Linked DNA regions of Homo sapiens. The protein of the gene in region 1 purifies or fractionates together with the protein of each later gene. This does not show direct contact. Each region holds a gene or a part of one and is shown in the gene's direction. Other genes may lie near its edges. The genes, in order: AVPI1, UNC119B and MACIR.

Region 1 (7,530 bases):
CAGCGTGGGTGACAGAGTGAGACTCCGCCTCAAAAAAAAAAAAAAAAAAGAGTAAAAAGAGTGAGGGGCCTCAAAATCTGGAGGTGCTAGGCCCTCCCTAAGGTTCAAGGAGGGTTGAGGCTGGAGGCTCAGACTCTCCCTGAGGGTTTCTTGGTATGTTTGTGACTCGCAGCTCGCTGAAGCTGTGGAGTCAAAGCCTTGCCATCCTGGGAGAGGTTGTTGGGAAGTCAGGCTCCAAGCCATTTCCTCCCCGAGGCAGCTGCTGCTACATGATCCTTATTGCCCTTCTTTTCCTGGGGAGGTGAGGCCAGATATCACCCTTTCTCCTACTACCCCAGACCTGCCTAGGCGTCTGCCCCGGGCTTGGTCATTGCCAGCTGAGGTCACTAGGGAGCTTTAGAGCTGTGAGTTCTGTTTTCTACCAGATGCTAACCCCAGGGCCCACTGCAGCAAAACAACATAGAGTAGGGAGGAGAAAGGGAGCTACTGGCTGGGGAATTTCCTAGCACCCAGTTAGCCAGACCTGTCCACACATTGCCCCTAGGCTTTGGCAGACAAGTAGCTCCGTTCCTCCTTCTGTACAGACTTACCTGCGGGTGGAATTGTTGACTCTCAGCACTGGTGCAGGCCCTCAGAAACAAACAGCATCAAGCTGTTCTTATAGCAGTAACAGGGAAGCTGACCCACAGAGGGGATGTGAATTGCCTGAGGTTTTTCAGCCAGTGAGTGGCAGAAGTAGGGCTTGAACCGACTCCTCTGACTCGTAAGCCAGGGCTCTGTGCACTGGGCTGGGTTGCAGTTCTTGATTTCTTCTGTGGAAGCTGGGCTCTTCCTCTTTAGAGTGCTACGGCTCAAGGCTGGGCTGTCACCCAGGAAAGAGCCCTGACCCTAGAGAACAGACTAACGAAATTCCACAGCTCCACCCCTGCCTCCACCAGGTGGGATAATTCATTGTCCTTCCCTTTCCATTGGTAGGATTTCCCCTTCATGAATTAGGTGGGAATAGGAAAGCATTCTTCATAGAAATGTGAAGTGTTCTTTAAGCTGCCTGGCTGTGAAGCCAGCTCGGGGGTTTAAAAGCGTGGGCTGACCGGGCGCAGTGGCTCACACCTGTAATCACAACACTTTGGGAGGCCAAGGCGGGTGGATCACCTGAGGTCAGGAGTTCAAGACCAGCCTGACCAACATGGTGAAACCCTGTCTTTACTAAAAATACAAAAAATTAGTCGGGAGTGGTGGGGGACGCCTGTAATCCCAGCTATTCGGGAGGCTGAGGCAGGAGAATCACTTGAACTCAGGAGGTAGAGGTTGCAGTGAGCTGAGATTGCAACACTGCACTCCAACCTGGACAACAAGAGCAAAACTCACTCTCAAAAAAAAAATAAAAATAAAAGCATGGGCTGCAGTCATTTGAACCACCTCTGGCCTCGGCTAAGCCACTGGTACTCATATTTGCATCTTAGCTTCCCTTTACTTCCCTGTGAAATGGGATAACAGTCCCTAACTCCTAGAATTGTTTTGAGGATTAAAGGATATCATACGTATTGCCTGATCCAGAGTAAATATCCCATAGTTAGCTTTTCTTTTTATCAGCCTAAAAGTGTTACTTGGCGACTGTTGTCTTCTTGTCACAGTGTGTTTATGTCATCCAGCTCTGGGGGCTTAATTACCATATAGATTAGGTTTTAACTGGATTTTCATAATAGCACCTAAGGAGAGGCAGATTTTTAAATTTCCATTTTCCAAATAAAATACAATTTTCATGACGTTAACTCATCTGGAAGTCTTCTGCAGCTTTATTGTAGTTGTTAAATCTTTTGAAAACAGGGTGGAGTTTTTATGATAGAAGGCCTGGAAACTGGGACAGAGTGAGCATAGAAATGATTGGGATAATGAGGGTGACTATTGAGGTGAGGAGCGGAGAAGGCCAGGGCAAGGGGGGGAGTCATATTTTGGGAGTATGAGTGGGGCGGAGACAATTCAAACTCTTACAGAGAACAAAAGGCAGGTTAGGGGAAGGGTTACTTCTGCAAGTGGGTTGATAGGAAATTGGAAAAGTTTTTATATATAAGCTTTTGTACTGTTTGCCTCTTATGATGAGCATGTAAATATTTTAATTTAAAAATATTTTAATGTTCCTTTTCCCCTTTTGGAAGCTGGTTGCTGTTGACAGCTGTCTCTGTAGCTGGCTGTGGAATGAGGTCTGACTTAGGCAACCAGGCCCTGGAGAAGCAGCAGGACCTGCTCCTCCTCTCCCCAGCAGGCCTGGGGCTGGGAGAGATGGGTGGGAGCACAGGCCTGTCATCAGCTGGCTGTGCCACACAGCTTAGAGGAAAGAGGAGGGTTTACCTGTACCCCTGACCCAGGTACAAAGGTCACAGAGGCCAACAGAGGAGGATTTGCGTTTATAAATTCCTCAGTATCCATGGAGGGTGGTTCCAGGCTCCTCCGTGGGACGCTTAAGTCACTTACATAAAATGCCATGTTGGCCTATAGACTGCGCACATCCTCCTGCATGCTTTAAATCATCTCTAGGGTACTTATAATACCTAATACAATGTGAATGTTTTGTAGTTACAATGTATCTATTTTTTATTTGTATTTTTTAATTGTTGTATCATTGTATTCTTTTTTTCTTTTTTTTTTTTTTTTCTTTTTTTTTGAGACGGAGTCTCGCTCTGTCGCCCAGGCCGGACTGCGGACTGCAGTGGCGCAATCTCGGCTCACTGCAAGCTCCGCTTCCCGGGTTCACGCCATTCTCCTGCCTCAGCCTCCCGAGTAGCTGGGACTACAGGCGCCCGCCACCGCGCCCGGCTAATTTTTTGTATTTTTTAGTAGAGACGGGGTTTCACCTTGTTAGCCAGGATGGTCTCTATCTCCTGACCTCATGATCCACCCACCTCGGCCTCCCAAAGTGCTGGATTACAGGCGTGAGCCACCGCGCCCGGCCGTATTCTTTTTTTTAAGACGGAGTTTTGCTCTTGTTGCCCAGGCTGGAGTGCAATGGCGGGATCTCGGCTCACCGCAACCTCTGCCTCCTGGGTTCAAGTGATTCTCCTGCCTCAGCCTCCCGAGTAGCTGGGATTACAGGCATGCGCCACCACGCCCGGCTACTTTTGTATTTTTAGTAGAGACGGAGTTTCTCAATGTTGGTCAGGCTGGTCTTGAACTCCTGACCTCAGGTGATCCGCCCGCCTCACCTCCCAAAGTGCTGGGATTACAGGTGTGAGCCACCACGCCCAGCCATATCATTGTATTCTTAAATTTTTTATTTATCCTCTTATTGGGTAACTGATATAATTTTATTTAGCTCTTATTGGGTAACTGATATACTGGGCTCATTTATCCTTACTATAACCCTAAGAAGTGGGTAATCTTATCCCCATTTGACAGTTAAGGAAACAGGCTCAGAGACGAGGTTGGGTAACTTGCTTAAGGTGTCAGAGTTGGAACTCAAAACCTGTTCTATGTAATGCCAGGCTTCCCTTGTTTCCAGGCTGTGCTGGAGACAAGGATGGGTGGGTAAGCTTCTTAGGCCTTTATTATTCAAAGTGAACTATCTAGAATCAAGGGAGATCCTTTAATTTTCACTTCCTGGATATGATGGGAGACATTGACACAGAGTCTAACTTCTATTGAACTTTCTTATAAGTTTCAGTCTCTGCCCTTGACAGTATATTCTAACCCTTGTAGCCTCCTCTTCTGCCTCCACCTCTTGCTCATTAGGTCCACTGGACTGTGGTTAGATCTGATTGGCTCATTTCATACTATGTTTGCTAAATTATACAGATTTGGTTCATCCCCAGGGTCTTAAAGATAGGAGGTGGGATGATGTCTCAATTTTATAGATTGAAAACACTGACCACTATTCTATATACTTTGTCTTCCTTCAATCTTCAAATTAATCCTACAAAGTAGGTAGTAGTACTAGGTGATAATTTGACACGGGAGGCAGCTGAGGCAGGGGGGATGCCCAGCCAGTAAGTGGTGGAGGGGGTAGAAGTGGGATTCCAACTCGGGTAGCCCAGCTCCACAACTCCTCTCTTACCTTTGTGCTACGGCACCTGGGCCTTAGCATCAGAGAGGCCTGGGTTCTCATCCTAGTTGCAGAACCATGGATGACTTAACCTTTCCTCAGATTCCTCATCTGTGAAATGAGGAGGATTAAAATACCTACCTTACAGGGCTGTTGTGCTTGTTACATCTCATTGATACTATGTGAAGCAAGCTGTTACAGGTGCCTGGTATAAGTACTCAACACAGTTGAGCTGCTACTGGGCATCCTGGCGTCTGCATGGAATCTACAGCTAGACAGACCTGGGTTCAACTGCTGGCTCTGCATGTGCACGTGGCTTTGTGACGCTGGCAAGTCATTTAACCCCTCTGAGTTGCACTTCTTCATCGGTAAAATGAGGATAAACAATAATTCTTACCTCATGGGTTGCTTTGAATCCTAAATGAGATAATATGGGGGTCTGACACATAAGTGCTTAAGTGATTTTAAGGCAGGAGACTTCCTCCAGTTTAGCTCTTGGAGAATGGAAACATCAGAAGCCCTAGGATTAGCCAGGACCCCCAGGTCTGGGAAGGACCAGCTGAGTTGATGATGTCTCCATGCTTTGCATCCTCAGAGCATCCACAATGGGTACCCCAGCCTCGGTGGTCAGTGAGCCACCCCCTTGGCAGGCCCCGATTGAGGCCCGGGGCCGCAAGCAGGCCTCGGCCAACATCTTCCAGGACGCCGAGCTGCTGCAGATCCAAGCCCTGTTTCAACGCAGCGGGGACCAGCTGGCCGAGGAACGGGCACAGATCATCTGGGAATGTGCAGGGGACCACCGTGTGGCTGAGGCCCTCAAGAGGCTGCGCAGGAAGAGGCCCCCAAGGCAGAAACCCCTGGGCCACTCGCTACACCACTGCAGCCGCCTCAGGTAGGTTCCTAGAACCGGATGGCTGAGGGAAGAGCACTAATGCCTGTTCCACCACTGCATGGCTGTGTGGCCTGGAGCTAGTTACTTGGCCTCACTGTAAAGTGCCTGCCCACCATTGGGGTGGTTATAAGGTCTACACAGTGTCACCACTTGGTTGGCACTTAAGAGATTGCTGTTGGTGGGTGCAGTGGCTCATCCCTGTAATCCCAGCACTTTGGGAGGCCGAGGCAGGCAGATCACTAGGTCAGGAGTTTGAGACCAGCCTGACCAACATGGTGAAACCCTGTCTCTACTAAAATTACAAAAATTAGCTGGGTGTGGTGGCACACACCTGTAATCCCAGCTACTCAGCAGGGTGAGGCAGGAGAGTCACTTGAATCTGGGAGGTGGAGGTTGCAGTGAGCTGAGATGACGCCACCGCACTCCAGCCAGCCTGGGTGACAGAGCGAGACTCTGTCTCAAAAAAAAAAAAAAAAAGATTGCTGTTACTTTTGGAGTCATATACAACCCTGTGAACTCCCATGGAAAGAGATGCCTGAGTCCTAGTAGCATCACCTCATTCTGCCGTTATTCTCAGCTTACCAGCCTGGGCAACATGGCGAGATCCTGTCTCTGAAAACACACACACACACACACACACACACACACACACACACACACACACACACACACACACACACACACACACACACACACACACACACACACACACACACACACACACACACACACACACACCCTCCCCCCGCCAAAAAAAAGAGAAATTAGCCAGGCATGGTGGCATGCACCTGCGGTCCCAGCTACTCCAGGGGCTGAGGTAGGAGGATCACTTGAGGCCAGGAGTTTGAGGCTGCAGTAAGCTATGATCCTGTCACTGCACTCCAGCCTGAGTGACCTGAGTGACAGAGTGAGATTCTCTTTTTTTTTTTTTTTTAAGCCTAATTAAAATCTTGGCTGGGGGATTACAGAGAATATAGCCTAGGAATGTACTGTCGAGGCATTATGGGTTAAAAATTGTTGAAAACTTTTACCTTGAGATCTCTCCCCAGTCTCCCTGGTGGGCCACTTCTTTGCCTAGGCCACTGCCAGCCCAGGAAGAGTGAACCCAAAGGGATGGAGCTGAACCACTTGGCCTCAACCAATCACTATGGGTGATGCTCTGGGCTTCATCTCTCTGCTGCCTTCTCTGGGGCCCACAATCAGAACATCAGACCTAAACAGGCCTTTGGAGGTCATCAGGTCCTGAGATGGCAAGTCAGTGTCATAGCTTGTATTTAACTCCAGTTAATTAGTAGTCACTGCTTATCAAACCAGTTTAATAGCATGACTTATGACATCTGCCATGAGTACAGGATGAGGATGAAGAAATGTTGAGTTTTGCACAACCTGATCTGGTCCAACCCTTTCTACTGCAGAGAAATCTGTAAACTTTGTCTAGTCAGACAGTTCTCAGAGGGGGAAAGACCAGAGCAGAGCCCCGCTCTCATTTTGCTCCAAATCATATGTTTTATGGTCCACCATGACGAAATCTCTTGAAGTCCCCATTCCATTCTTCCTATTGATGTTGGCTAATCATACACTTGTTCTCTGCAGAATCCTGGAGCCCCACTCTGCACTGGCCAACCCACAGAGTGCCACAGAGACAGCCTCCAGTGAGCAGTATCTGCACTCTAGGAAGAAAAGTGCCAGGATCCGCCGGAACTGGAGGAAGTCAGGCCCCACAAGCTACCTCCACCAGATCAGACACTGATCCAGGGAAAGAGCCAGGAATGGCAGTGTCTTCCCTCTTGCCAAAAGGCCTGGGGAGGTGAAGGAAGAGAGACTTTAGGCAAGCAGCCCAAAGGGGTAAATGAAAGCAAGAGGCTGCTGCCACTGACCTGCTCCATTCAGAACAAGACTGGATGCTTCTGTTGAGCTCTCCATTATGTGGGACCCATTCCTCACCAAAATGAGGAGAGACAGTGACTGTTCCTGCCACAGTCCTTCCCAGTCTAACACTATTCCTGGGCTGCATGATATTCCCCTGGGAGCAAAGTGACAGGCACTTAGATGCAGCATTTCACCACTCATGCTACTAATCATCTACCTGCTACTACTGTAAACCATGGTTCCAGCAGCCTGTTCCACACCCCCACACCATCAGGATAGCACAGGGAAACTGTAGTTTAAGTGGCAAATAAAAACATTTGCATCAAGAGCTGTGTGAGTCTGTCACAGAAGGGGAGGAAATGAAACAGAGTGGGAGGGGCAAGAGTGTCCCCAGGAAGGAAAAATCAGGGCTGGCCTCCTCTCTCCTTTTCACCTCCCTCTCCTTTTTCACCCCCATGCTGAGCCCCTGGACCACAGCCTCCTTTTCCAGAGTCTGTTGGATCGGGAGTAAAGAGGGGAGTCTCTGCAGCAGTCCTGATCCATAGGATCAGGAGAAGGGGGAAGACTGTCATGGTCAGCCCAGCACAGTAGGCTGAGGCCTTGGGCTGGCTTAATCTGTAGTCAAACTAGTGGTGCCAGATCCTCATTTGGTTTCTTCATCCTTATGGGCTGACCATCCCAAGGTGGACTGATGATTCTGAAGTTGCCTGCGTTATATCCTAGGCTTCCCATG
Region 2 (7,935 bases), on another chromosome or scaffold:
GGAGGCAGAGGTTGCAGTGAGCCAAGATCATGCCGTTGCACTCCACCCTGGCAACAGAGCAAGACTCCTTCTTAAAAACAAACAAACAAACAAACAAACAAACAGCCCTCAGCCAGATAGTAGAGTGACTTGGTACTAAGGAAATTACTAGCTCTTAGTCCCAGACCACAAGCCATGCCTGCAATCCCAGCCATGATTTGCTAATTCAGTGCATGCCATCTGGGGAGGCAGCAGAAAGCAGGACTGAACTTTCAGTCTTGGCAGAAAAATGCCAGCTGATGATGTCTTGCTTACCTTGGTTACACCAGCTCTGGGCCCCACCTGCCTGGCCTGATTTGAAGGCAGACTGCCTGGCTACTCTGGGACTGCCCTGGAAAACAGCCACTCTCACACCTCTTACAGGGAGGAAAACAGCCAGCGGGAGAGAGTCAGCCCTGAGCTGGGGGGAAAGGAAGGCTGGCCCTCTGCTTTTGGTGTCAGGATTACTATTTAATGCAGTAGTCCTCTATTTTCCTTCTTCCCCCAAATAAAGTGTTAGTATATGTAATTTTCAAAAGACATTTTAAAAGAGCCTTTCCCCACACCTCAAAAAATTTGATGTGGAAAGGCAGATTGGCGGTTACACCCCTAATTTTTCCTACCCCTTTAAAAAATGAAATTATATATATTTCCTTCCCTTTCCCTTTCCTTCATTTCCTTCTTTCTTTTCTCGTTTCCTTCCTTTCCCCCCGTCCTTTCTTACAGTCTCACTCTCACCCCTCGAACTTCTGGCCTCAAGCAATCCTCTGGCTTTGGCCTCCCAAAGTGTTGGTATTACACGCATGAGCCACTGTGCCCAGCCAGTCTATTCCTTTTAACCAAAATTCATAGGTAGTGCCCAGAGAGAGTACAAGCTCTGACTCATATGGCAGTATTTACTTAAAAAAAAAAAAAAATGCCAGGCATGGTGGCTCACGCCTGTAATCCCAGCACTTTGGGAGGCTGAGGCAGGCGGATCGCCTGAGGTCAGTTCAAGGCCAGCCTGACCAACATGGTGAAACCCCATCTCTACTAAAAATACAAAAATTAGCTAGGTATGGTGGTGGGCACCTGTAATCCCAGCTACTTGGGAGGCTGAGGCAGGAGAATCGCTTGAACCTGGGAGGCGGAGGTTGCAGTGAGCCAAGATTGTGCCACTGTACTCCAGCCTGGGCGACAGAATGAGACTCTGTCTCAAAAAAAAGAATAATAAAAATAAAAAATAAAGTAAAATAAAAAAACAGGCCAGGCACAGTGGCTTACGCATGTAATCCCAACACTTTGGGAGGCTGAGGCAGGTGGATCACAAGTTCAGAAGATCGAGACCAGCCTGTCCAACGTGGTGAAACCCCGTCTCTACTAAAAATACAAAAATTAGCTGGGCATGGTGGCGCGTGCCTGTGTTCTCAGCTACTTGGGAGGCGGAGGCAGGAGAATCGCTTGAACCCAGGAGGCAGAGGTTGCAGTGAGCCGAGATTGTGCCACTGCACTCCAGCCTGGGTGACAGAGCGAGACCCGTCAGAAAAAAAAAAAAAAAAATTAAGTTTGAGGTTGCTTTTAAATTTTAAAAGATTTGTAAGGCAACTTTGGCATAGAGTTTGCCTTCCAGACACAGATCCAAAAGTATTTTCTTTTCTTTTTTTTTTTTTTGAGACAGAGTCTTGCTCTGTTGCCAGGCTGGAGTGCAGTGGCGCGATCTCAGCTCACTGCAACCTCCACCTCCCAGGTTCAAGCGATTCTCCTGCCTCAGCCTCCCAAGTAGCTGGGACTAAAGGAGTGTGCCACCATGCCCGGCTAATTTTTGTAGTTTTAGTAGAGACGGGGTTTCACCATATTGGTCAGGCTGGTCTCGAACTCCTGACGTTGTGATCTGCCTGCCTCGGCTTCCCAAAGTGCTGGAATTATAGCCGTGAGCCACTGCACCTGGCCGGTATTTTCTTTTTAAAAAAGTATACAAGCAGCCCATGATTATATGCTTGAGATAAAATAGTACAGAAGTAGTAGTTCTAAATAATGTCAAAAGTGAATATATTTCCTTTAGTCTCTTCTGATACTCTCCTCCCCAGACGTAATCAAAGTTAATGTTTTAATGTATATCCAGACCTCTTCCTTTACAGTTACAAATGCATATTTATATTTATGTCTATGTCTATCTGTGTTTTTTTTTTTTTTTTTTTTGAGACAGGGTCTCACGCCCATGGCCCAGGCTAAAGTGCAGTGGTGCGATCTCAGCTCACACAGCCTCGGCTTCCTGGGCTCCGGTGATTCTCCCACCTCAGCCTCCTGAGTAGCTGGGACTACTGGCATGCACCACCACGCCCAGCTAATTTTCGTATTTTTAGTAGAGACGGGGTTTTGCCATGTTTCCCAGGCTGGTCTCGAACTCCTGGGCTCAAGCAATTTGCTCACCTTGGCCTCCCAAAGTGCTGGGATTACAGGCATGAACCACCACACTCGGCCCACATCTAAATATTTATATACTTTTTATTTTAAATAAATGGGATTCGCGGCTGGATGCAGTGAGCTGTGATTGTGCCACTGCACTGCAGCCTGGGTGACAAGAGTGAGACCCTGTCTTAAATAAATAAATACACAAATATGACTCTGTGCCTTGCTTTTTGCCCTACTTAATATATGTTTGAGATCTTTCCATACTAATATATATGTCTCATTTTTTAAAACAGCTCTATGTAACGTGAATGGATACAAATGTAATTTATTGTAATTTGTCAATATTACAAATCTCTGTGCATGCAGGTAGGGTAAATTCCTAGATGTGGAATTGCAGGTGAAGAGGTTACATTTGCCATCATCCCTAGAAAGAGAAAAGCCATGGTCCAGGTAACTAGTCTTGGTGCTATGAGAACAAACCTTCCGTAAATAAGTATATGGGAAATGACCACATGCTAAACCACCCTCTTGGCCATTCACAATCAAGTAGCATATTAAAAGTTCTGGAAATTCTTCAGTAACCACTCTGTTGAGTGGTTTAAAAAGAGTTGTTTGTAAAAGGAAAGACTTTAATTCTTTGTACACATTTATTAAAATCTCCCTGAACAGTTAGTTAAATGCCACCATATACTAATCTCTCAAAGACAGTACAGCATTTGGGTAGGAATTTGGCCACACACTATGCCACCCAATTGGGCAGCTGGGGTGGGGTCAGGTTTGGACTTTGTCCAGGAACCAAGAGATGCCTGTCTTGGTGGCTTTGGTGAGAGGGACTCAGCAAGCAAGGCCTGGCAAGAACGTCAAGAGGCTCTGGGGGACGGTTGCAATTTTACTCTAGCCTGGCTGAGAGGTGATGTCAGACCTAGCAGACACACTGCATCAATCAGGCCCAGGCCTCCAACACAGAACAGTGCAGATCTAGAATCCCTAGAGAAGGAGCCCCTCAGGGTGGAAGACGGTAGACCACATCCCCCTGTTGACCCACTTCTGGCTAATTGGTGAGGTCATGGCTAACTTCCAAAGCTCAGTGCAGATATTGCCTCTGAAAACTTCCGAAGCCCTCAAGCTTTTACAGCCAGGTCAGAATAAACCACTCCTGTGTGTTCTCCTAGCACCTTTGCTGCATCTCTTAGTGCAGTCAGTGAATCTAGTTTGTCTTCCAGTTCATACTAACCTACCTTGTGAAAAGGAAGGGTCACATAATGAATTGTGTACTTTACAGTCTTCTCTAACAAAAGTGGGAGCTCTTCCATAGTGGGATACTGTTCAGGCTCTCATTCAATCATTACTGAGCACCTACCACGTGTCAGGCATTAGCTGAACTGCTGGGAATTCAGGGGTGAGGCAGACCCAATCCCTGCCCTCACTCTTACATCTCCTGTAGCCTAGCCCAATGTCTAGCCCAGGGCCTGGCACAGTAGGGCTTACGGATGGCAATCTCATTGGAAAGTTTGTCTTGAAACTGCCTTTGCAAAACAAACACTGCTTTAACTTACCTTCTATGCTAAATATATTAATAAACATTTTCTCAAGATGCATTGTCCACTAATAGCTTAGTGTTGAAGAACAGGCCTTGGGTCAGATGGACCTGGATTAAAATCCCTGTTCCCTCCTCTTACTGCTTGAGGGACTTTGGACATGTTACCTGACTTCTCTGAACTTGAGCTTCCTGATCTGTAAAATGGAGACAGTAATACCTCACAGGGTTGTTGTGAGGTGAGGAGCCTGCCCTATAGCAAGTGTCCTGCCATATAGCAAGTGCGCAGTAAACACTGGCCATTCTTCTTCTTGGTGTGATTACTGGGAATTAGTTGCCATTGTGCTGTTGGGACTGGTGACAGAACTCTTGGATTGAGAATGCCGAGATGGTGCACGGAAGATTCTGTGTGCTCTTTCAGACCAGGAGGAGGATGAGGAGGAGGAAAGTTTATATGACGTAAATTCATTTGACCGTAAGATATGTATTTAAACATCGTGGAGGATCTTGGGGGTCTGATGGGGAGTGGGGTTGCTGAAGCTCCAGCCACCCCTAGGCCCTCCACCTGGCAGGACCAAAGTTGGGGCAGTAGCCGAAGCACCGCCCCCCGGGCCCCGCAGGAGTGTGCAGTCACCCAGTTAGGCCTATCTTGGCCTGCCCATCACTCCTGGCCTGCGGTCTCCTAACCCTGTGGCAGCAGCAGCATTCCCTGAATGGATCGAAGGCTGCCATGGTGTCGTCCGCTGAATTGCTATAGGAGTCAGCCCAGGGCTGCTCATGTGCACCTCAGGTTGCTGATGGCAGCTCTAGTTATTTGGGGATGGAAGTTTGGGGAGAGTGGGCCTTGGTCCACCCTGTGCGAAAGGGAATTCCACAGCCCCCCGGGCGCCCGCCCCCGCCCCCGCCCCGCCCCCTCCCCGCCCCTTCCCCGCCGGGCCCCGGGCCCCGCCCCCGCTCTCCATAGTTACCGCGCTGTGGAGGCGGCGGCCATCTTGGCGGCGGAGCGATGAGCGGGTCTAACCCGAAGGCTGCGGCCGCGGCGTCGGCGGCTGGGCCCGGGGGGCTGGTGGCTGGCAAGGAGGAGAAGAAGAAGGCGGGCGGCGGCGTCCTGAACCGCCTGAAGGCGCGGCGGCAGGCGCCCCACCACGCGGCCGACGACGGCGTCGGGGCAGCGGTCACGGAGCAGGAGCTGCTGGCGCTGGACACCATCCGGCCCGAGCACGTCCTGCGCCTCAGCCGGGTCACCGAGAGTGAGTGCCGCGCGGGCCGCGCCCTCCCCTCGCGCCGTGCCCCGGCTCCCGGAGCCTTCAGCGGACCCGGCCACTTGACCAGCGCGGGGGTCCCCGCCAGACCCCCTCGGCCGGCCGGGCCGCGCTTCCCGCTGCCCCGCCGGCCGGGCTTTGCTCCCGCCACGCTCACGTAGCTCTGGTGGGGAAGGACTCTCCTGGGCTGGACCGCATTCCTGTGAGTCCGGCCACGCTAGGATGCCCTTCGGCCGGTCGGCTCCCCAGCTCTGCCGGACCTGTTTGGGTAGAGGGCCCCGTTCAGCTGAACTGGATCCTCCTGAGCCGGCCGGGGGCCGAGGTCCCCTAATAAATGGGCCCCTGGGCCCTCAGCCTGGAACCCCCGGCCATCAGTGAAGTTCCCGCTCAGCCAGGCTCCCCCAGCCCTCTGGCAGGCCAGAAGCCTTACCTGCTTCCTCCGCCCTGGCCCCATGGCAGCCCTCCCCCATTGCAGCCTGCCCGGCCTCCCTCCCTCTTTGGGTCGGGAGCGTTGCCCCTTAGTGTGCAGATGGGTTCTTCCTCAAAACACATAGCCGTGGCATTTCCTGCTCATTTAAAACTGTGCCACATTAAAACAAAAATAAAGTTTCAGTTTGTGTACAGACTCCGACATGTGAATCCTGCTTTTGACATTCTCGTGAATTAAGAATGATTTCAGAGTTTCAGAAATGCGTTTCCTGCACAAAAGGCAACCATCCTAAGCTTTTTCGTTGATAGGAGGATGGGTGGGAAGAAAAATGTTGCCCAGTCCCTGCCCTGGGTGATCTCCCTTTTTCTGTTCTCTGCCAAGCCAGTCCCTGACTTGACGTCTTTTCTCTTGCTGCTGTTTTCCCTGCAGGAGTGTGCACTCACCTAGTTAGGCCTATCTTGGCCTGCCCATCACTCCTGGCGTGCAGTCTCCTAACCCTGTGGCAGCAGCAACATTCCCTGGATGGATCGAAGGCTGCCATGGTGTCTGCTGAGCTGCTATAGCAGGCAGCCCAGGGCTGTTCAGGTGCACCTCAGGTTGCCGATTGCAGCTCTAGTAATTTGGGGATGGAAATTTGGGGGGAGTAGGCCTTGGTCCACCCTGTGCGAAAGGGAATTCCCATTTCCTAAAAGAGTTTTAATTTGATTCTAGATATTTGGATGCCCCCGTTTCCCAATACTGTTTGGGTTGAGACTGTCCTTACCAGACCTGAACGTATCTTTAGACATTCTTGTTAGTTTTATTGAAACAGTGTGAAAAAGCTTCTTTTCTTCTGAACCAGTTTTCATTTGGGGCTCTGAAAGTACAGATGCTCAGCACCTGGTCTTGGTAACCTCATGCCCTCTCCTGCCATCCAAGTGAGTTAGGGTATTCTGTGCCTGGCCCTAAGCAGGATTCTCAGTGGGCACTCAGATCCTATCTGGGGGCTTGGGATTGTTGCTCATTGTCCAAACCCACCTCTGCAGCTTCTTAGAGTCTGGCAACCTCTTTGTTACTCTTCTTAACGTCTCGTTCATTCTATCCAGCAGATTATTTGAGTACCCTCTAAGAGTCCAAAGCCAATGTTAGCCTTTTTAGCAGTTACAGAATAATCAGTAGTTGTCAAGTTTGTCGTCTTAATAAAGAGACAACTTGTAAAACACGAAAACAACTAACTCAGGCAATAAAAGATCAAGTATCAAAATGAGCTGTGGAGAAGATGCTATCCGGAATCATCCTAGAAAGAAATCAGTGAAATTTGCTGTGATTAGAATTATTTCAATTTGCGGCTCATGTTCTAGTCACTTGGGCCTAATGTCTTCACCGGCAGATTTATCCTCTTGCCTGGATATGTATGATATGTATTGTCTACTGTATGATTTTGTGTAGCCCACAAACTAAGATTAGGTTTGTACATTTTTAAATGGTTGAAAAAAACTTTAAAATCTTGAGACACGTGGTTATGTAAAATTCATATTTCAGTGTCCATAAATACAGTTTTACTGGAATATAGCCACATTCATTCATTTGCGTATTGTCTGTGGATGCTTTTGTGGCTACAATGATAGAGTTGAGTAGTTGTGACAGAGACCATGTGGCGGCAAAGCCTAAATTATTTAGAATCTGGCTCTACAGAAAAGTTTGCTGATCTCGGCTTTCTTACACTGACAGTTGGCAAACTAACGTTGGCAAACTAGCACTGTATTATCTGCTAAGTCAGTTTAAATGTCTTAGATTGGAATTCTATAAAAAGTTCGCCCTGTTCTGACATCCAACTTGATAGATGATGAAAGATTTTTATGTGTTTCCAAAGAAATCCACCTTTTCTATCCTAGTTTCTAAAAGTTTTGCAATTTTTCATCCAAAGCAAGTCCTTGTTATTTTTTTTCTTTGTTGGATCCCCTAATTCTGTCCATACAACTTCTGCTGGTGATAACACATGAGAAAGTTTTTGGGAGTATTTTAAGTGTGTTGTGTAAGAAAAAATCTGAGTTTGCTTCAAAACTTGAGAATTAAATAAATGGTAGTTTTGGAGGATTATTTAACAGTGTTGGTTTCTCTCTCTTGTTTTCAGATTATTTATGTAAACCCGAAGACAACATCTACAGTATTGATTTCACCCGCTTCAAAATTCGAGATTTGGAGACAGGGACAGTACTTTTTGAGATTGCCAAACCTTGCGTTTCAGGTAGGCCTCTACGTTGTGGTGACCACTAGACAGTTTTGAGCCAAAGGTCTTTGAAACTCAAATCTTTGTG
Region 3 (7,970 bases), on another chromosome or scaffold:
TGCTCAACCTAGCTGTTTTCATTACCTTCTTGGCAATAAAGTGCCTGCGTGGGAGTAGGTGTTCTCTGTTCCTTAAAACCTAAGTCTTACCTTGGCAGGCTTTGATGTGAGGAGGCCTGCCTGGCCCGGTTTTGCCTCTTATTGGGTAGGTATATCAGTCTAATTATGGGATTTAAAAAATAGAACCACTGTAATTGTACATTAAACTATGTCCTCCAATGTTACAGAAACAATTGGCGCCACCTTTATGCCTTTTATTTCTCAATTTGTTTGGAATGGGGCAGGAAAGGGGGTGCTACTTGGGCCCTCTTGAAAACCATTTCTCTCACCTCTTAATTTATGAATGAAGGGGCTGAGGCCAACAGAAGTAAAGTTTAATTTGCCCAGATTCAAGTGGTAGTTTATGAGTACCTGTTCTGTGCCAGTCTAGATATTGTAAAGGATACACGTATAAACACAACTCAAGTTTCTTAAGAAGCTTATAATTTAGTGACCAACCGGAGGTCCCACAGCAAGCTGGAACTGAGAAGTGATTTCTCTGTTGTTTATAATGCTGTTATATTTTTGTTTCCTCTATTTTCTATCTTCTTTTTTTATTGATATAATTGAGTTAAATAGGCTTTTCTATGCAAATTATGGAATTTAATTACATTTTCTTTCTATGAAAGAATATTTCTAAAAGCACAGATTTTAATTCTCTGAACTGCTGTCCTCCTCCGCACACAGGAGGGGCCCTTTGAAGATTATCAAATGGTATGCTGGTAAACTGGCTTTCTGGGGGGTGGGGAGATTAGAGAGAAATGGGAAGCCCTGTTTATAGAATTTGCCAATTTCTATGGTGTAAATACTCCTACCATAGCTGATTTCAAGCTACTGATGATTTAACAACCAGTTTGCAAAGTTCCTGAAAATTTAGCAATCAGTACTTCTGAGCCAGATACAAGATACAAGCTGGCTTCAGCAGACCTTACTACAGGTTCTTCTCCCACTCCTCGCAGTAAAAATAGGCTAAATATTTACTGAGCACCTGTTATATGTCAGTCTCTGGGCTTTCTTTGGGGGTTAGACATAGTCTGAGACCTCAGGGAATGTATAGTTTAGAGGGGGAGATAGTATATTTCAGCACTGTGTGGTATTAGGCCAGGGAAATGAGAAATATCAGTAGGAATCAGAAAACTCTTCTTAGAGGTGGTGACATCTACATGAAATCTGAGGAATGGCAAAGAATTAGACTGAGAGGGAGGGGTGGAGAAGAATGCTCCACAGGAAACAATTATGTACAGGCTTAAATAATGAATAAGCAGAATGTGAGTGTGGAGTTAGAAGTGGTCTAGCAAGAGCTGAAGGGCAGCCTGAATTTCCCTCCTGAGCGCCCACTCCACATATCTGGCCTTCTGCTTGACACCTCCATGAGGATGTGCCACAGAGTCACCAAATTCAACATATTCCAAAGTAAGCTCCTTCCACCTTTCTCCTCCTCAGCTTGGTCCACAATACTAACCGTCTCTTACTTCTATGGCTGGATAATATTTTGAGATACTAATTTATGATTTTTTTTCCAACTTGTATTTACCCCCTTGTTGCCTTCGGGAGAGATGTGGCAGGGTAGAGAGGAGTTGCCTGCAGATCATTTTTTCATTCTGGCTCTTACTGAAAACAACCTGAGCCCCCAGAGACAGAATAGAGTTTGCTGGCAATGGCAGAGTGTCTGGGAAAAAAAAAATGAAGAGGAAGGATTTTCCTTAAGAAGTGATTCCCTTGTATCTGGAAAGAAGAGGATAGAAGTCAGTATGTCCCAAGGCAGTGGGATTTGAGCCCTGAACTTGGACCACCATAATACCCTAAACATAAATGACCGAGGATGTGTGAGGCTTAGCAGGATGGTCCCAGATCTAGGAAATTCCTCTGGCCTCAGGTGTGGTGCCGGAGCCAAAGGGAGGGAACCAGTGTATAGGGCAGGGCCGTCTCGTCTATAGGCAGGTTGTGCACTGTATCATGGAACCATAGGTGGCAGCTCCAGGAAGGAACAAAGGAAACCTCTGTGGACAGATGACTGCAATCCGAAGGACCTCCCCTCCACTCCCTGCCATCATCACCCATTCATGGTCTGGTCTGGCATATGCTCTTGGAACTTTGACCCTGCTCGAGGGAATGAGGGAAGAACTTTACAAAAGAGTAAGGCCTTTAAAGAGAAATAAAATCAAGTGCAGATTCACGTTCTATGTTCTTCTCCTAGTCTCCTCAGTGTCTCAAAGGGCTGATCCCCGTAGGCTGTTTCCCTGGCTCCCATGGCAGGTGTATCAGACTTGGCCAATGCAAGGCACTGGAAGGAGATTGGAGGGCAGGAGAGGAGAACGTATAGTACATTTCCCCCTTCTCCCTCCCTAGATTGCTTCTTTGGCAGTGGTTGTTTCTCCTCTATGGCCGCAGCTCTCACCAGGCTGGCCATGCTGCCTGGGCCCTGGACTCCAATAACCCTGCCTCTTCTCTTATTTCTCCAGCTAGAGGTCGCAGTTGCTAGTTTCTGGATTACTGTGCCATCTCCTGATTAGCTTCTGACTTTTCCTATCACCTACGTTACCAATTTCTTGCATTCAATTACTTCTGTAGATACTCAAAATGGTTTCTGTTTTCCTGGTTAGACCCTGCTTGAAACAAATGAGTTTATAGAAAAGAAGGTAATGTGGTATTTCTTGCACACCTGTCTTTGTAGATTCTGTTTTACATCATTATGTTGTTATCAAATTCACCTATTCTGTTCTCTCAAGCTGGTTGTTTGCTAGCCGACATCATTTACATCAACGTAGTATAATATTTCCCAGGCAGCTGACATTTTAAAGTCATTTTAAAGGGATTTTCTGGAAAGGATGCCTTGAGGCAAAGACATAACTTACACAAGGAGTGTGTGAGATGGAGCTTCTGAGTCCCCAAATTCAGAAGGCCTTTCAGGGCTCTGGGTCTATTCTACATTTGGGCCTAACCCTTTATATGAATGCCATTTTTCTTTATAGGTTGAAGAGATCTTCCTAAAACACTAAAAAGCTCTGGGAAGGGATTCTGCATTAACTTGCACCTCTTATATGCCCCTCAGCCACGGCACTTGCAACCCACATCCAATCCGAGTGAAGACAATACCCAGTCAGTATCTCTAGGTGGCATAAACATATCCTTGATGGAGCCACACATAAAGCTATTATCAACCATTACTGCATGGTGAATTGGTTTATTAGGTGTTCTTTGTGACACTCAAGAACTGACTTAGGTTCTGATTGGGTGAAGATTCAGGGTTAGGATGGGAGCATAGAACACCACCCAGGGAGGGAGGCAATTTGGAGACAATGCCCTCAAGAGAGCTAGCCTTGAGCCTAATAAACTAAGAGGGGAACTTTATTGCTTTTGGCCAAAGCACACTGCCAAACTCTCAGCGCAAAGGGCAAGTACAAGACATTCTTCTGAAAAAGTTATAAGATTTCAGACAGGAAGAAATGAAATTAAGTCTCTTAATATAAAATATACAATGTTTTGGAGGTGGTTTTATGAGAATGATCATCAGGACAATACACTATTGTGTCAAACAGATTATAATCGGAAATAATTCTCGGTGTATTCTCCTAATGTACTGATGCAAAAAAAGTTTCTTCATTTATTTATTCATATTATGTTGTGCTAGCTTCTATATTTTTGAAATTACATGCAAATCTATGTCGGGAAAAAAAGTAACTGATGTTTTGTAAAATTGTTTAGGGAACATTCCTTAAAACTTATTCTTCCCTCTACCTTCCTTTACTTATTTTAGGGCACATAAGCAGTAGCATAAAATGGCTTATAGCTGAGCGGCCTCCGGGAGTGGTTCTGTTGGACTAGAGGTGTTTATATATTTTTTGCCTTTATATTATCAGGAACATATGTAGATTCTGGAACAAGTGTGAATCAAGACTCGTTTAAACTTATATTAATCTACTCCAGATTTATGTCTTTTATGTTAAGATAAAGCATTTTGTCTTTTAAAAAATAAAACTCTCTTGATTGGACACTGGTACCGAAATTTATAACACTTATAAACAATTTTGGGGTTCACCGACTGCGTACACATTCAGCCTTAGCCACTCAGTAGGCATATGACCTAAACTTTCTGCATTTTTAAAATGTGGATCATAATTGGTTACTTCCTCACAGAATGGTTATTGAGAGATGTAAATTTGGATATGCATGCCAGTAAATATTCTTATTGCTGAGCTTAACCAGTTCGGCAGAAATGTACATGAATTGAGAGAAGCAAATCTTCATCAAAGAAAATAATTTATTACAATAATAGACAAGATCAACATTTGTGCAAATTAAAAAATAGTTAATCCAATCAGAATCTGAATTTGAACTCCCCCCCCCGCCCCACCCCGCCACCTTCACTGGGTATTACGAGTTTTCGTAGACTGATCCTATAATTTTTAATTTCATGGCCTTCTAGTTTTCTGTACTTTTGCTTAGTGCTGAGCCCTTTAAGCAGAGACTCACAAGTGACAAATATCAGCACACCACTTAACTGAGGAAGCCGGAGTGTTCCCAGGTCCGCAAGTTGGAGCTCTTTAGTTGGAGTGCTGGGTTTAGACTAGAGAGCGGGTGTTGCGACTCCTCCTCCCCACCACCAGTCAACAACCCCGCCCACCCCCGCCAACTTCTTCTGGCCTCTTAGCGCCTTTCTGCAGCCAGCCGGCCCGCCCTTCCTCCGGGTGTCTGAGAGCTGGGCGCAGGAGGCGGGCTCAGCGCTGACGGGCTGCGCCTCTGCAGCCAGAGGGAGGAGGCGGGAAGGCGGGCGGAGGAGGAGGCGGAGGAGGAGGCGGAGGAGGGGGCGGGGACTAAGCAGGGCGGTAGCTGGCGCCGAGCGCGGTGGGAGAGGAGAGGGTACCCGGCTGGCTCGGCTGGCGGCCTCTGCCTGGATCTCGGCGCCGCAGTCCTGCGCCTCTCCCGCCCCTGTCTCCCGCTCCGCAGCCCCGGGCACGGCGGAGGCAGCGGAGCCCTGGGCCATCGGTAGGTTGCACGGGGACGACGGCTCCGTCTGTAACCTTTTGTGCTGCAGAAAAGGTGGTGGTTATGGGGGGCTTGGGGGAGTGGGTTTGCCCCAGGCTCCGATCCCCAGTGCCAGCCCTAATCGCGGCGCCGCCCCTTCCTCTCCGCCTCGTGTCTGGGCCGGGCGCACGATGCCCGCGGTGCTGGGGAAACCCGGCCGGACCAGCTTCTGCGATGGGCGGCGGGGCGGCCCCAGCGTCCCTTGGCCTTGGTGGACCGGTTCCCAGGCACCCGAAGGGGACTGGGGTCTGGTAAACTGGGTGGGGCCCGCGCGGGGTGCGGGGAGCTTGCGGTTCCCTGGCACAGGGGTGGGGCCGCAGACGCCGTGAGTGTGCAGCGCGTGTGAGTGTGCGGGGGCGTGCGCCCCCGTGTGCGCGCGTCGTGCGCTCGCTGGGGAGGTGCGGGGACTCGGCGACCCGGAGCGCCTCTCCCGCGGTGCCGCGGTGCGGAAGTCGGGGCGCGTTGGCGCGCACGCTCGCTCGCTCCCTCCCTTGGCCGCTGTTCCCGCACCGCGGGGCAGCGGGCCTGGAGGCCCCTTTGAGAAGTAGCTTTCCCCGGCCGGCGGCACCTTTGGCTGCGTGCCCGGCCGCGCTCAGGGTGCGACTGCCCGGGTCAGATAGCACCTCAGGGCGAGCCCCGGCGGTCTGATCTCGCCGACCCTCCTCGTCCTGGTTGCAACCCGCGTGCGAGGCCGCCCGCGCCCTCCGAGTGTCTGCCGGTGCAGTGGGGGTGGACTGGCCGGCTGTGGCCGTGTGTGCGCGTGTGGATTGGGGCCCGGTCCGAGCCAGAAGCTTAAGCGGCAGATGTCGGGCATTGCCACCCTCGCCCCACCTGTCGCGGGTGGACTTTGGGGCAGGTGGGAAGCGGAGGAGAGGGGTTTCGAGGCGGGTGGCAGTCAGACCTCCAGCAACGCGGCCCCATTGTGAAGCTGCCAAACTCTCTCTAGTGGTGGAATCTGCAGGTCTCCGCCAGAAAGGAGATGGGAACGCGAAGGGAATGATGGCCCCGTCCTTTTCCCCTTGCTAGTGTTCCACACGCTTAGGGACTCCCTGCCTCTCCTTCCACCTCAGTTTTCAACCCAGTGGGTTACTGATTTGGGTGGAACCAAGATTTCCGTGTGTGTGTGTGTGTGTGTGTGTGTTTGTGTGTGTGTGGTGCACAGGTAAAGCTGGAGCTGGGAACTTTTTATTTGAGCAGGAAGAATGGAGGCATTTTACAGTGTGCTTGCCGCTCCTAGCTGAAAGAACAATTCTTGCATATTTCTGATGTTACTAGACTCATTTTCCTTTTTTTTTTTTTTCCGAAGAGCCAACCTACAATTTAGGGTTGTTAGTTGTTTTATTTTCTCAAATCCTGTAATGCTGGATTGACACTATAGAGGTAGAAATGACCCTTTTGCAAAGTTTATTTTCCCAGTCATTTCAAAATATAGTATTGGTTATTACGGCAGAAGCTTTTGGCCGCGATTTATGATTACACTATTAAGTTTAATGAATGTGTCACAGAATCCTCAGTGTTTTAATTATGTAACTGTGAATGCATTATAAACTGAAAAGTAAAATGAACAGGATGGAATATAAGAGTTAATGAATACAGAGACCTGTTAATTTGATAATAATTGATGTATAGAATATGCTTTTGCTAACAGTTTATTTAATTGCAAATGAAAGTGTTAGTAATTATTTCAGTGTATAAGATATATTTATTGATATTATATAACAGTCAATGAATTTGCTTATTTTCTTTGTATATTTCTGTGTATTTTAGAGAGCTATTATAAAATTAACTCAAAAGTACTTAATATGGTTAGAGTAATAAAGCTTTATGTACAGGGTTTAAAATTTCTTTGCTGATTTGTAGCTGGGGGTGAGGTGGGGGATCAGCTCCTTTCCTCCAGAGAGAACTTTGATTTTGTCACCAGCCTATCAAAATGAGTACCTGGTTTTAAGCCTTCCCAAAGATTAGCCAATTCCACAGTGTACACCTGTTCCATTTTGATGATACTTCCTAAGAGACAAATTTCTTGTAAAGGCTGCATGTTGACCTTTAGTTCCACTTACTGTCGGTCATATTTGCAGTGAAACTGAGTATTTTTCTAAAAGTAGAAGGATGACACCACGTGATAAGAAGATATTAGTAACCTAGGTTTAATTTTTACTAGCAGAAATGGAAAGATAATGAGTGCTGCACTTTAAGGGGGTGGATTGCTATTAAAAGAACTGATACTAGAAAGAGAAACACATTTTTGTCTTACTGAACGAATTATGGGTTATCTTACAAAGTTGGCAAGGTTAATGGTTTGTTTGTAAGGTCAAGGATGGTTTCAGAAAAGTCACACCCTAGTTAACTCTTCTTAAAGAGTATTGATGACTTACTTTTTGCAAGTTGCAAATGGTAAAGTAAGAATATTTGAAAGAAGCCTCTAAGATGAGCATCTAGGTGCAGCTAAACATTTTGTTTTCATTGTTGTGTTGTACTTTGACAGTTAAGCCATTTTATTTCTGCTTAGTGTTCAGTTAGTATTCCTCCAGAGATGTTTTGGTTCATCTTTTACTTGTTTTTAGTGGTCTTTGAGATTAGTGGTTACAAAATATTTTCACTATTTTGAAAGAATTTTTAAAAATTGATGTTTTTTTTCCAAGTGCTTTTCCATTAGTGGTCTCTTCTTAAATAGCCACTCTGAAAATACTACCTGTTTTTCTTTTTCTTTCTTTCTTTCTTTCTTTCTTTCTTTCTTTCTTTCTTTCTTTCTTTCTTTCTTTCTTTCTTCCTTTCTTTCTTTCTTTCTTTCTTTTCTTTCTTGAAAATGTTTTGGTGGGCTTCAGGTTAGGGCCATGAAAAAAATGAAAATAAATGTTTTGATAGCTAGAATTAGAACTCACAGCTTCTACTGTACCAATTTCTCT

Evidence for each region.
Region 2: the proteins of AVPI1 (region 1) and UNC119B purify together in Homo sapiens (co-immunoprecipitation; 2 studies listed by BioGRID and IntAct, with this or other methods). This does not show direct contact.
Region 3: the proteins of AVPI1 (region 1) and MACIR purify together in Homo sapiens (co-immunoprecipitation; 2 studies listed by BioGRID and IntAct, with this or other methods). This does not show direct contact.

Annotation. Positions count from the first base shown.
Region 1 is NC_000010.11:97,677,017-97,684,546, reverse strand, and holds the end of AVPI1 (arginine vasopressin-induced protein 1), read left to right. Parts: intron 1-4,631; 5' UTR 4,632-4,641; coding exon 4,642-4,928; intron 4,929-6,521; coding exon 6,522-6,678; 3' UTR 6,679-7,123; downstream 7,124-7,530. UniProt on the Homo sapiens protein: May be involved in MAP kinase activation, epithelial sodium channel (ENaC) down-regulation and cell cycling.
Region 2 is NC_000012.12:120,705,523-120,713,457, forward strand, and holds the start of UNC119B (protein unc-119 homolog B), read left to right. Parts: upstream 1-4,935; 5' UTR 4,936-4,952; coding exon 4,953-5,196; intron 5,197-7,751; coding exon 7,752-7,865; intron 7,866-7,935. UniProt on the Homo sapiens protein: Myristoyl-binding protein that acts as a cargo adapter: specifically binds the myristoyl moiety of a subset of N-terminally myristoylated proteins and is required for their localization.
Region 3 is NC_000005.10:103,253,872-103,261,841, forward strand, and holds the start of MACIR (macrophage immunometabolism regulator), read left to right. Parts: upstream 1-4,891; 5' UTR 4,892-5,025; intron 5,026-5,158; exon of another isoform or gene 5,159-5,324; intron 5,325-5,353; exon of another isoform or gene 5,354-5,406; intron 5,407-5,552; exon of another isoform or gene 5,553-5,920; intron 5,921-6,034; exon of another isoform or gene 6,035-6,145; intron 6,146-7,970. UniProt on the Homo sapiens protein: Regulates the macrophage function, by enhancing the resolution of inflammation and wound repair functions mediated by M2 macrophages. The regulation of macrophage function is, due at least in part, to its ability to inhibit glycolysis.